2 linked regions of the Homo sapiens genome follow. The protein of the gene in region 1 binds, or shares a complex with, the protein of each later gene. Each region holds a gene or a part of one and is shown in the gene's direction. Other genes may lie near its edges. The genes, in order: DNM1L and MIEF2.

Evidence for each region.
Region 2: the proteins of DNM1L (region 1) and MIEF2 are in contact, whole or in part, in a cryo-EM structure (PDB 5WP9), measured with the Homo sapiens proteins. Residues at the interface, in NP_036192.2 of Homo sapiens: Asp190, Met191, Ala192, Thr193, Ser194, Leu197, Lys198, Ile199, Arg201, Glu202, Gly223, Thr224, Asp225, Asp228, Arg233, Val234; in NP_631901.2 of Homo sapiens: Val213 (codon at 564), Asp214 (codon at 567), Thr215 (codon at 570), Val216 (codon at 573), Arg218 (codon at 579), Arg226 (codon at 603), Leu230 (codon at 615), Arg235 (codon at 630), Val245 (codon at 660), Gly246 (codon at 663), Tyr248 (codon at 669).

Annotation. Positions count from the first base shown.
Region 1 is NC_000012.12:32,682,257-32,689,550, forward strand, and holds part of DNM1L (dynamin-1-like protein), read left to right. Parts: intron 1-7,294. UniProt on the Homo sapiens protein: Functions in mitochondrial and peroxisomal division.
Region 2 is NC_000017.11:18,263,473-18,267,157, forward strand, and holds the end of MIEF2 (mitochondrial dynamics protein MID49), read left to right. Parts: intron 1-237; coding exon 238-1,292; 3' UTR 1,293-3,080; downstream 3,081-3,685. UniProt on the Homo sapiens protein: Mitochondrial outer membrane protein involved in the regulation of mitochondrial organization.

The DNA of each region.
Region 1 (7,294 bases):
CACATAGCTGGGATTACAGGCATGCACCACCACGCCCGGCTAATTTTGTATTTTTAGTAGAGACAGAGTTTCTCCATGTTGGTCAGGCTGGTATCCAACTCCCGACCTCAGGTGATCCACCCGTCTCGGCCTCCCAAAGTGCTGGGATTACAGGTGTGAACCACCCCGCCTGGCCTAAGAATCACTTTGAAACTAAGTTTCCTGGATCCTGTCTCCAGAGATTTTGATTTTATAAGCCTGGGTTGGGTGAGGGACCATAGGTGATTCTGATACAGATGGTTCCTAGATCCTAATTTGAAAAACATATTAGTGAATCATTGGATTTTAAAATGCATGATACTGGAAAAAGCAGGAAAATTAGGGGAGGTTGAATCTATGGCATACTACCATCCAGTACCATGCTGACTTTGGTGGCATTCTTGCTTTAATATATCACTTCCCAGGCAACCATTGCTGACCCCTAAATGTTTTAAACTTTGGTTTTATGAAATGCCCAAGTAACACTCATTTGGGGGCTAGGGACTTGGAGGAGTGGAGGTGAGGGAATCCTGTTTACAGCTATCAGTCATTCACATGTTTTATGTGTTAGCTAAATAAATTGCTTTTATTTTTTCTAGTAGAGACCATCTGTGTGAAATGAACAGACACAGTGGGGAGAGAGAGAAGGCTGATGATACTTTTAGACCATGGTGTAACTTTGCAAGTAGAGGAGATAAGACTTAAAACAACTTTTGTGACTCAACTTGGGAAATTTAATCCTATTTCTTAAATTAAGAATTGGAAAGGGGAGCCCTCCAGGTATGTAATCTAAACTACCACCCAATATAGGTATCCGAATACAGATGACATTAACCTGAGACTCTGGCTTAGTGTTCCTAGTAATGTACTTTACACTTTTCCTTTTATTTCAGTGATTTCAGCATTCTATCTTCAGTAATTCAGACAAATGTAAAAGGAAAAACAATTTGGATTTTTTATTTTTATTTTTTTAGGGTCTGGCTCTTTCACCCAGGCTGGAGTGCAGTGGCATAATCCATAGCTCACTGTAACCTCAAATTCCTGGGCTCAAGCAGTCCTCTTGCCTCAGCCTCCTGAGTAGCTGGGACTACAGGCACGCATCTGGCTAATTTTTTTTTTTAAATTTAAAATCGCTGCCTTACTATGTTGCCAAGGCTGGTCTCAAACTCCTGGGCTCAAATGATCCTCTTGCCTTGGCCTCCCAAAGTGCTAGGAGTATAGGTGTGAGCCACTGCACCTAGCCTAAAAATAATTTGGATTTTATTTTATTTTATTATTTATTTTTTTAGAGATGGAGTCTTGCTCTGTTGTCCAGGCTGGAGTGCAGTGGTGCGATCTCAACTCACTGCAACCTCCGCTTCCCGAGTTCAAGTGATTCTCCTGCCTCAGCCTCCTGAGTAGCTGGGATTACAGGTGCATGCCACCACGCCCAGCTAATTTTTGTATTTTTAGTAGAGATGGGGTTTCACTGTGTTGGTCAGGCTGGTCTCGAACTCCTGACCTCATGATCCACTTGCCTTGGCCTCCCAAAGTGCTGGAATTACAGACATGAGCCACTGTGCTCGGCCTAATTTTTGTATTTTTAGTAGAGACAGCATTTTACAACGTTGGCCAGACTGGTCTCAAACTCCTGACCTCAAATGATCTGCCTGCCTCAGCCTCCTGCTGGGATAACAGGTATGAGCCACCATGCCCGGCCAGTAATTTGGATTTTAATTTCTAATTTGCAAATCAACTTTTAAAAATTTAACATTAAAAATACTGAAATATTCATGTAACACAAAATTCACCCTTATAAAGTATACACAACTCAGCAGCGTTTAGTATGTTCACAAAGTTGTACCACCATAGTGTAATTCCAAAATATTTTCATTACCTGAAAAAGAAAACTCCTGCCCATAAGCAGTCACCCCCGTTTTGTCCTCCCCCAGCTTCTGACAGGTTTTGATTTTATAAGCCCCACGTGGGTGAGGGTCCATCGGTGACTCTGATACAGATGGTTCCTAGATCCTAATTTGAAAAATATATTAGTGAATCATTGGATTTTAAAATGCATGATACTGGAAAAAGCAGGTATCACTGGCAACCACTAATCTACTTTTTGTCTGTATGGATTTGCCTATTTGGGATATTTCACATTAGTGGAATCCTATAATATGTGATTTGATCTTTTGTGCCAGGCATCTGTTGCTCAACATAATTCTTTTTTTTTTTCTTTTTTGAGACAGAGTTTTGCTCTGTTGCTCAGGCTGGAGTGCAATGGCACAATCTCAGCTCACTGCAACCCTTCACCTTCCGGGTTCAGGTGATTCTTCTGCCTCAGCCCGGATTACAGGCGCGTGCTACCGCACCCAGCTAATTTTTTTGTATTTTTAGTAGAGACGAGGTTTTGCCATGTTGGCCAGGCTGGTCTCGAACTCCTGACCTCAAGTGATCTGCCTGCCTCAGCTTCCCAAAGTGCTGGGATTATAGGCATGAGCCACTCAACATAATGTTTTTTAGGTTCATCCATTATGTAGCATGGCAGAATAATAAATATTACATTGTATAGATACAGCACAGTTTATTCATCAATTGATGAATTTTTGGGTTGTTTCTATTTTTTGGCTATTATGAATAAATAATGCTCTGCGAACATTCGTTTACAAGTTTTTGTGTGAATGTGTATTTTTTTTTTTTTTTTGAGATGGAGTCTCGCTCTGTCACACAGGCTGGAATGCAGTGGCGTGATCTTGGCTCACCGCAAGCTCCGCCTCCCGGGTTTACGCCGTTCTCCTGCCTCAGCCTCCCGAGTAGCTGGGACTGCAGGTGCCCGCTACCACGCCCAGCTAATTTTTTGTTTTTAGTAGAGACAGGGTTTCACCGTGTTAGCCAGGATGGTCTCGATCTCCTCACCTCGTGATCCACCCGCCTCGGCCTCCCAAAGTGCTGGGATTACAGGCGTGAGCCACCGCGCCCGGTCAGTGAATGTGTATTTTTGATTCTCTTGGGTATATATCTAAGCGTAGACTTGCTGATTCATATGATAATTCTTACGTTTAACTTTCTGAAAAACTACCAAAGTGTTTTCCATAGTGGCTGCACCTTTTTTTTTTTTTTTTTTTGAGACAGGGTCTCACTTTCTCGCCCAGACTGGAGTGCTGTGGCGCTATCTTGGCTTACCGCAACCTCTGCCTCCCAGGCTCAAGGCGTTCTCCTGCTTCAGCATCCTGAGTAGCTGGGATTACAGGTGCCCGCCACTACTGCCCGGCTACTTTTTGTATTTTTAGTAGAGGCGAGGGTTTCCTTATATTGGTCAGGCTGGTCTCGAACTCCTGACCTCAAATGATCCACCCACCTCGGCCTCCCAAAGTGCTGGGATTACAGGCGTGAGCTGCTGCGCCCAGCCGTGGCTGCACCATTTCACATCCCCTCCAGGGTTCAGGTTTCTGCACATCCTTATCAACACTTGTTGTTATCTTTTTTTTTTAAGCGCTAAATCATTCTGGAATTCTTTATTTGAAAAACAGCACTTTTTGACACCTATGCCATTTCCTTCTCTTATGGACAACTTTTTTCATAGTTTGATGTCCCTCTCTCTTTTTTTTCTCCATGAGCACTGCTGTCTACATTTTAGCATTTATTGACTATAATTTAATTCCTGCTTATGCATTGTTTTCTTGTGTTCTTAGATAAATTTATGTTTTTCTCTTTTTTTGTATAGATTATGAGCTGCTGCTTTTTTTTAACTTAACAAAATTGAGGTGAAATTTGCAGAACATAAAATTAGCCTTTTTTTTTTTTTTTTTTTTTTGAGATGGAGTTTTGCTCTTGTTGCCCAGGCTGGAGTGCAATGGCGCGATCTCGGCTCACAGCAACCTCCACCTCCCGGGTTCAAGTGATTCTCCTGCCTCAGCCTCTCAAGTAGCTGGGATTACAAGCATGTGCCATGCCTGGCTAATTTTGTATTTTTAGTAGAGACAGGGTTTCTCCATGTTGGTCAGGCTAGTCTCAAACTCATGACCTCAGGTGATCCGTCCACCTCGACCTCCCAAAGTGCTGGGATTACAGGTGTGAGCCACTGTGCCCAGCCAAAATTAGCCCTTTTATAAAATGTATAATTCAGTGTCATTTAGTGCATTCATAATGACATCTCTGTCTAGGTCCAAAACAATTTCATCACGAAAGAAAACTACTATTGAGCTGTCACTCCCTCTTCTTTCTTTTCCATTTAATGGCTGAGTAATATTCTGTTATATGTATAAACCACATTGGTTTATTCAATCACCTATTGATGAGCAATTGGGTTGTTTCTGCCTTTTAGCTGTTGTGAATAGTGCTGCTGTGAATATTGGTGTACAAGTATTTGAGTACCTGTTATCAGTTATTTTGGTATATACCTAGGAGTAAAATTACTGGGTTCTATGGTAATTTTGTTTAACTTTTTGAGCAACCACTTTTCCACAGCAGCTACACCATTTTAAAATTCCCACCAGCAATGTTTGAAGGGTGCAGTTTTTCTGTATCTTTGTCAACATTTGTTATTATCTGTTTTTGATTATAGTCATCCTAATGGGTGTGAAGTTTTGTTTTGCATTTCCCTAATGACTAATGGTGTTGAACATCTTTTCATGTGTTTGTTGGGGTTGTCTTATTGTTGAGGTTGTAAGAGTTCTTTTTTTTCTTTTTTTTTTTTTTTTTTTGAGATGGAGTCTCGCTCTGTTGCCCAGGTGGCCAGGCTGGTCTTGAACTCCTGACCTCAGGTGATCCGCCTGCCTTGGCCTCCCAAAGTGCTGGCATTATAGGCATGAGCCACCACACCCGGCCTTGTCTTTTTGCTTCCTTGTTAGTGTCCTTCAATACACAAAAGGTTTTACTTTTGGTTAAGGCTAATTTATCTTTTTTTTTCCTTTTATTGCTTTATGGTGTCATATCTAAGGCATTGACAAATCCAAAGCCGTGAAGATTTTTTTTTATTTTTTAATGTTTTTTCCCCTAATTATTTTATAGTTTTGGCTTGTATATTTAGGCTTTTGATCCATTTTGAGTACATCTTGGTATGGTATGAGGTAGGGGTTCATTTCATTTTTTTTGCACGTGCTTCTCCAGTTGACCTAGTACCATTTGTTGGAGAGACTGTTCTTTCCCCATTGAATAGTCTTGGCATTGTTGAAAATCAGTTGAGCAAAGATTTTGTTGTTGTTGTTGAGACAGGGTCTCACTCTGTCACCCAGGCTGGAGTGCAATGATGCAGTCTTGGGTCACTACAGCCTCCACCTCCTGAGTTCAAGCGATTCTTCTGCCTCATCCTCCCAAGTAGCTGAGACTACAGTCACCTGCCATCACGCCGGGCTATTTTTTTTGGTATTTTTTTTTAGTAGATACGGGGTTTTGCCATGTTGGCCAGGCTGGTCTTGAACTCCTGACCTCAGGTGATCCATCCACCTCGGCCTCCCAAAGTGCTGGGAATACAGGCATGAGCCACCATGCCTGGCCAGCCAAAGATTTATTATATGGGTTTATTTCTGGATTCTCAGTTCTATTCTGCTTTGATTACTGTAGCTTTGGAGTATATTTAAAATTTGAGAAGTGTAACTTTACCAGCATTGTTTTTCTTTTTCAAAATTGTTTTGGTTGTTTGGGGTCCCTTGTCATTCAATATGAATTTTATTTTATATTATTTTATTTTGAGAGGTAGTCTTACTCTGTCGCCCAGGCTGGAGTGCAGTGGCGTGATCTCGTTTCACTTGCAGCCTCTGCCTCCTGGGTTCAAGCGATCCAACCACCTCAGGCTGCAAGTAGCTGAGATTACAGGTGCCCACCACCATGCCTGGCTAATATTTGTTTTTTTAGTAGAGATGGGGTTTCACCACGTTGGCAAGATTGATCTCAAACTCCTAACCTCAGGTGATCTGCCCACCTTGGCCTCCCAAAATGCTGGGATTACAGGCGTGAGCCACTGTGTGGGCCCCGTATGAATTTTAGATTTGGCTTCTCCATTTCTGTAAACAAGACAGTTGGGATTTTGATGGGGATTGTGTTGCCTCTATAGGTTGCTTCAGGTTTTATTGGCATCTTAACCATTTTAAGTTAGAATTTTTGATGGGGAGGTTTTTTCTTTTAGCACTTTATCTTACTGCCTCTGGCTCCTATGGTTTCTTTTCTCTTTTCTTTCTTTGAAAACAAGTTTATTAAAGTAAAGGAATAAAAGAATGGCTACTCCATAGGCAGAGCTGCTGTGGCCCCTATGGTTTCTGATGAGAAGTCTGTTGTATCTGTTGTTAGTCTTACTGAGGATCCCTTGTTCATGACTCTTAGCTTCTCTCTTGCTGCTTTTAGCATTTGTCTTTGTCTTTCAACAGTTTGATTATAATTTATCTCAATGTGTGTATTTCTTTGTGTTTATCCTGCTTTGAGTTCATCGAGCTTCTTGGATGTGTAGATTCATATCACTTTTTCATGCTTTTATGGAAGAAGTGGGGATTTTCACAGACGATAATTCTGCCTTATCAGATATCTGAATCTCTCTCTTAGTGATCTAGAAAGCACTGGACCTATAGTTTTATAACCAAGAAAAAATTCCTTCCTAAGGACTGTTAGGTCTGCAGTATTTTAGAAAGTTTGGATTTTGGGTATTAAGTTCATATAAGAACACTCTTTTAAGCCAAGTGTGGTGGCCTGTGCCTGTAGTCCCTTTTACTTGGGAGACCTGGTGGCAAGGCTGCTTGAGCCCAGGAGGTTGAGGGCTGTAGTTCACTGTGATTGTGCTGTGAATAGCTGCTGCACTCCAGCCTAAGCAACATAGTGAGACCTGGTCTCTTAAGAACAAAAAACACCCCACATATTAACTACAAATTATGAAGTGGTTTAAACTTCATATTTATATTTTGTCATTAGGTAGAGGGTTTGAGCTATATGGTAGAAACATTGTAGTTTAGCTATTTTATTTTATTTTATTTTTGAGGCAGAGTTTCGCTCTCGTTGCCCAGGCTGGATTGCAATGGCGTGATCCTGGCTGACTGCAACTTCTGCCTCCTGAGTTCAAGTGATTCTACTGTCTCAGCTTCCCGAGTAGCTGGGATTACAGGCATGCGCCACCACGCCTGGCTAATTTTGTATTTTTAGTAGAGACAAGGTTTCTCCATGTTAGTCAGTCTGGTCTCAACCTCAGGTGATCTGCCCGCCTCACCCTCCCAAAGTGCTGGGATTACAGGCATGAGCCACTGGGCCCGGCGTAGTTTAGCTGTTTTAAATACCATAAGATTAACATTTCTAAGGACACTCTTAGAAATATTTT
Region 2 (3,685 bases), on another chromosome or scaffold:
GTGACATACCTACCTACTCTGCATGAAGCTGTTGTCGCCAGGGTGTTGGACTCTGGGGCAATGAGAACTCGTCACCAAGAGCTCACTATATGTGAGGATCTGAACTGAGTGCCTTCTCAGGTGCCACTGCAGGTGAGAAAAGTGAGGCCCTGGGACATCACACAGCTAGTTCTCGGTGGCGTTTTCTTAACTAATCACAGGCTGTTCCGACATGTTCCCCGCCCCTTCACTCTGCAGAAGGGCCTGCAGAAACTGATCCTGAGGTGACACCACAGCTCAGCTCCCCAGCACCGCTGTGTCTGACACTGCAGGAGAGGCTGCTGGCCTTCGAGCGGGACCGTGTGACCATCCCAGCAGCCCAGGTGGCTTTGGCCAAACAGCTGGCTGGCGACATCGCCCTGGAGCTGCAGGCCTACTTTCGGAGCAAGTTCCCGGAACTGCCCTTTGGGGCATTCGTGCCTGGGGGGCCGCTCTACGACGGGCTGCAGGCGGGGGCTGCGGACCATGTGCGTCTCCTGGTGCCACTGGTGCTGGAGCCGGGCCTGTGGAGCCTGGTGCCGGGCGTGGACACTGTGGCGAGGGACCCTCGCTGCTGGGCCGTGCGCAGGACGCAGCTTGAGTTCTGCCCCCGTGGGAGCAGCCCCTGGGACCGCTTCCTGGTCGGGGGCTACCTCTCCTCCCGCGTCCTGCTGGAGCTACTCCGCAAGGCGCTGGCTGCTTCTGTCAACTGGCCGGCCATTGGCAGCCTTCTCGGGTGCCTGATCCGGCCCAGCATGGCCTCGGAGGAGCTGCTGCTCGAGGTGCAGCACGAACGCCTGGAGCTCACTGTGGCTGTGCTTGTGGCAGTCCCTGGGGTCGATGCTGACGACCGCCTCCTCTTGGCCTGGCCCCTGGAGGGGCTGGCGGGGAACCTCTGGCTGCAGGACCTGTATCCAGTGGAGGCTGCTAGGCTGCGAGCCCTGGACGACCATGACGCTGGGACTCGCCGGCGGCTGCTGCTGCTGCTGTGTGCTGTCTGCCGTGGTTGCTCGGCTCTGGGGCAGCTAGGCCGGGGTCACCTGACCCAGGTGGTCCTGCGTCTGGGGGAGGACAACGTGGATTGGACGGAGGAGGCCTTGGGTGAGCGCTTCCTGCAAGCCCTGGAGCTGCTCATCGGCAGCCTGGAGCAGGCCAGCCTGCCCTGCCACTTCAACCCCAGCGTGAACCTCTTCAGCAGCTTGCGTGAGGAGGAGATTGACGACATTGGCTATGCGCTATACAGTGGCCTACAGGAGCCCGAGGGGCTGCTCTAGGTGGGTGGAAACGGGTGGTTGCCATGTTTTCTAATGCTGGGGAGCTGCACCCACCTCCCTTCCAGGGATTTGAATAGTGGTTTTTCTCTAGCTTTTTGCCAGAACAAAGGAGGGTACATTACTTAAACCCAGGGCATCAGGATGTGCTTGGGCTATGGTGGCCATAAACCCTGAGCCCAGAGAGCTTGGGTCACTGTCACCTGAGTGCAGCTGGGCTGCCTCAGGCAGCTTGGAGTGCCAGCCATTCCTGCAAGCACCGTTTCAGCTCTTGGGGCCAACCCCAGGACCTTTGGCTCTGTCCATCACCAGCAACCAATCCACCAACAGAATGTGGTTTCTGCCATCCTGGGCAGAAGCTGAAGGCCAGCTTCACATTTCTGCTGAGAGAAGGTGACTTAACGCCTTTTCCGGCCCTAGCTCCAGGCGTTTTGAGGCGTCTGGTGCCTGATGGTAGGTATGGTGTGTTTGTTCTGTCCCCCAGGGGCTGGAGTCACCTGGTGCCCCTGAAGGACAGATTTTTGGCTGTTAAAGGATGGCATTTTCCTGCTGTCTTCTGTGCGTTTAGTTTTCTTGCTGAGCGGGAGCTCAGTATGACTTGCCACCCACCTGATACCTCAGGGCAAGGCCCTTTTTCCCTCCAGCCAGGTGAGTGTTTTCTTCAGGCAGCTGAGGGTCCTGGGGGAGCTGAGGCTCTGTGCTGCACCCCCAGCCCACAGCTGGGGCATCTCACTGGAGCTGTTCCAGGCCCCACTGGAGAGCAGAGGACCTGATCCCCCACTAGAGAGGTCCGGTGTGCACAGCCGGCCTCCCAGTGTGCCAAAATGAACTGCTCTCAGCTGATGGCTGTATTCTGACTTTGAAGCCTGTTAAGAGGTAGCAAGGGGGCTAGAGGAGGGAGATTCCACCTCCCCTCCCAAGTGACCCTCCTCCTGCCTCTGGTATCCTTCCTTTTGAAACGAAGCTCAGCTTCGAAGATGTGAACAAGAATAAAAGGAAAAAATTCTAATGTATATATAACTCAGGCTGGATAAGGGAGTCTTGGTGCTTTCATACGCAGCTGTTGAGGGTTTTCTGTAAGTCCTGTGGCTTGTCCTGGCACTTTGGCAAGAGTGCTTGAGGTCAATTGGAGGTGGTAGAGTTTACTTTAAAAAGTAGCATCTTGGCCGGGTGTGGTGGCTCGCATCTGTAATCCCAGCACATCGGGAGGCCGAGGCGGGCGGATCACGAGGTCAAGAGATCGAGACCATCCTGACCAACATGATGAAACCCCAACTCTACTAAAAAGACAAAAATTAGCTGGGCGTGGTGGCACGCACCTATAGTCCCAGCTACTCGGGAGGCCGAGGCAGGAGAATTGCTTGAACCCGGGAGGTAGAGGTTGCAATGAGCTGAAATTGCACCACTGCACTCCAGACTGGCGACAGAGCAAGACTCTGTCTCAAAAAAATAAATAAATAAGCATCTTGGCCCCGCGCTGTGGCTCACGCCTATAATCCCAGCACTTTGGGAAGCCGAGGCCGGTAGATCACCTGAGGTTGGGAATTCAAGACCAGGCTGACCAACGTGGAGAAACTCCATCTCTGGTAAAAATTCAAAAAAATTAGCTGGGCATGGTGGCACATGCCTGTAATCCCAGCTACTTGGGAGGCTGAGGCAGGAGAATTGCTTGAACCCGGGAGGCGGAGGTTGTGGTGAGCTGAGATCGTGCCAGTGCACTCCAGCCTAGGCAACAAGAGTGAAACTCTGTCTCAAAATAAAATAAAATAAAATAATAATAGTAATAATAAATTAGCATCTCAGTCTGTTTGGGCTGTGATAACAAAATGCCATAGACTAGGTGGCTTATAAACATCAGAAATTTATGTCTTACCATTTTGGAGGCTAGAAATCCAAGAGTGAGTCACAGATTCCATGTTTGGTTGAGAGCCCACATCCTGGTTCATAGGTGTCCCCATCTAGCTGTCCTCATGTGGAGGAAGGGGGGAAATGCTCTCCTAGGGTCTCTTATAAGGAAACTAAGCCCACCCATGGGGTGGGGGCCCACATTCATGATCGAATCACTTCCCAAAGACCCCATCTCCTGTTAGCAGTGCCTTGGGGGTTAGGATTTCAGCATACAAGTTGAAGGGGACACAGACTTTCTGTCCGTGACAAGTAAGGTAAGTGGAAGGAAAAGATGAAAAGCTTGGTGTTGCTTTAGTAATGGGAACCAGCCAGTTTGGGATGTTTCTTCCCGCAAGGCTGAACTGCTGAGCCCTGCACCATACTTTCTGTAATTAGTGGGCTGTTGACAGCCCTTCAGCCATGCTCATCATTTTTTAGAAACCTGTGTTTTTTTTCTTTTGAGAGTGAGTATCACTCTGTCGCCCAGGCTGGAGTGCAGTGGTGCGATC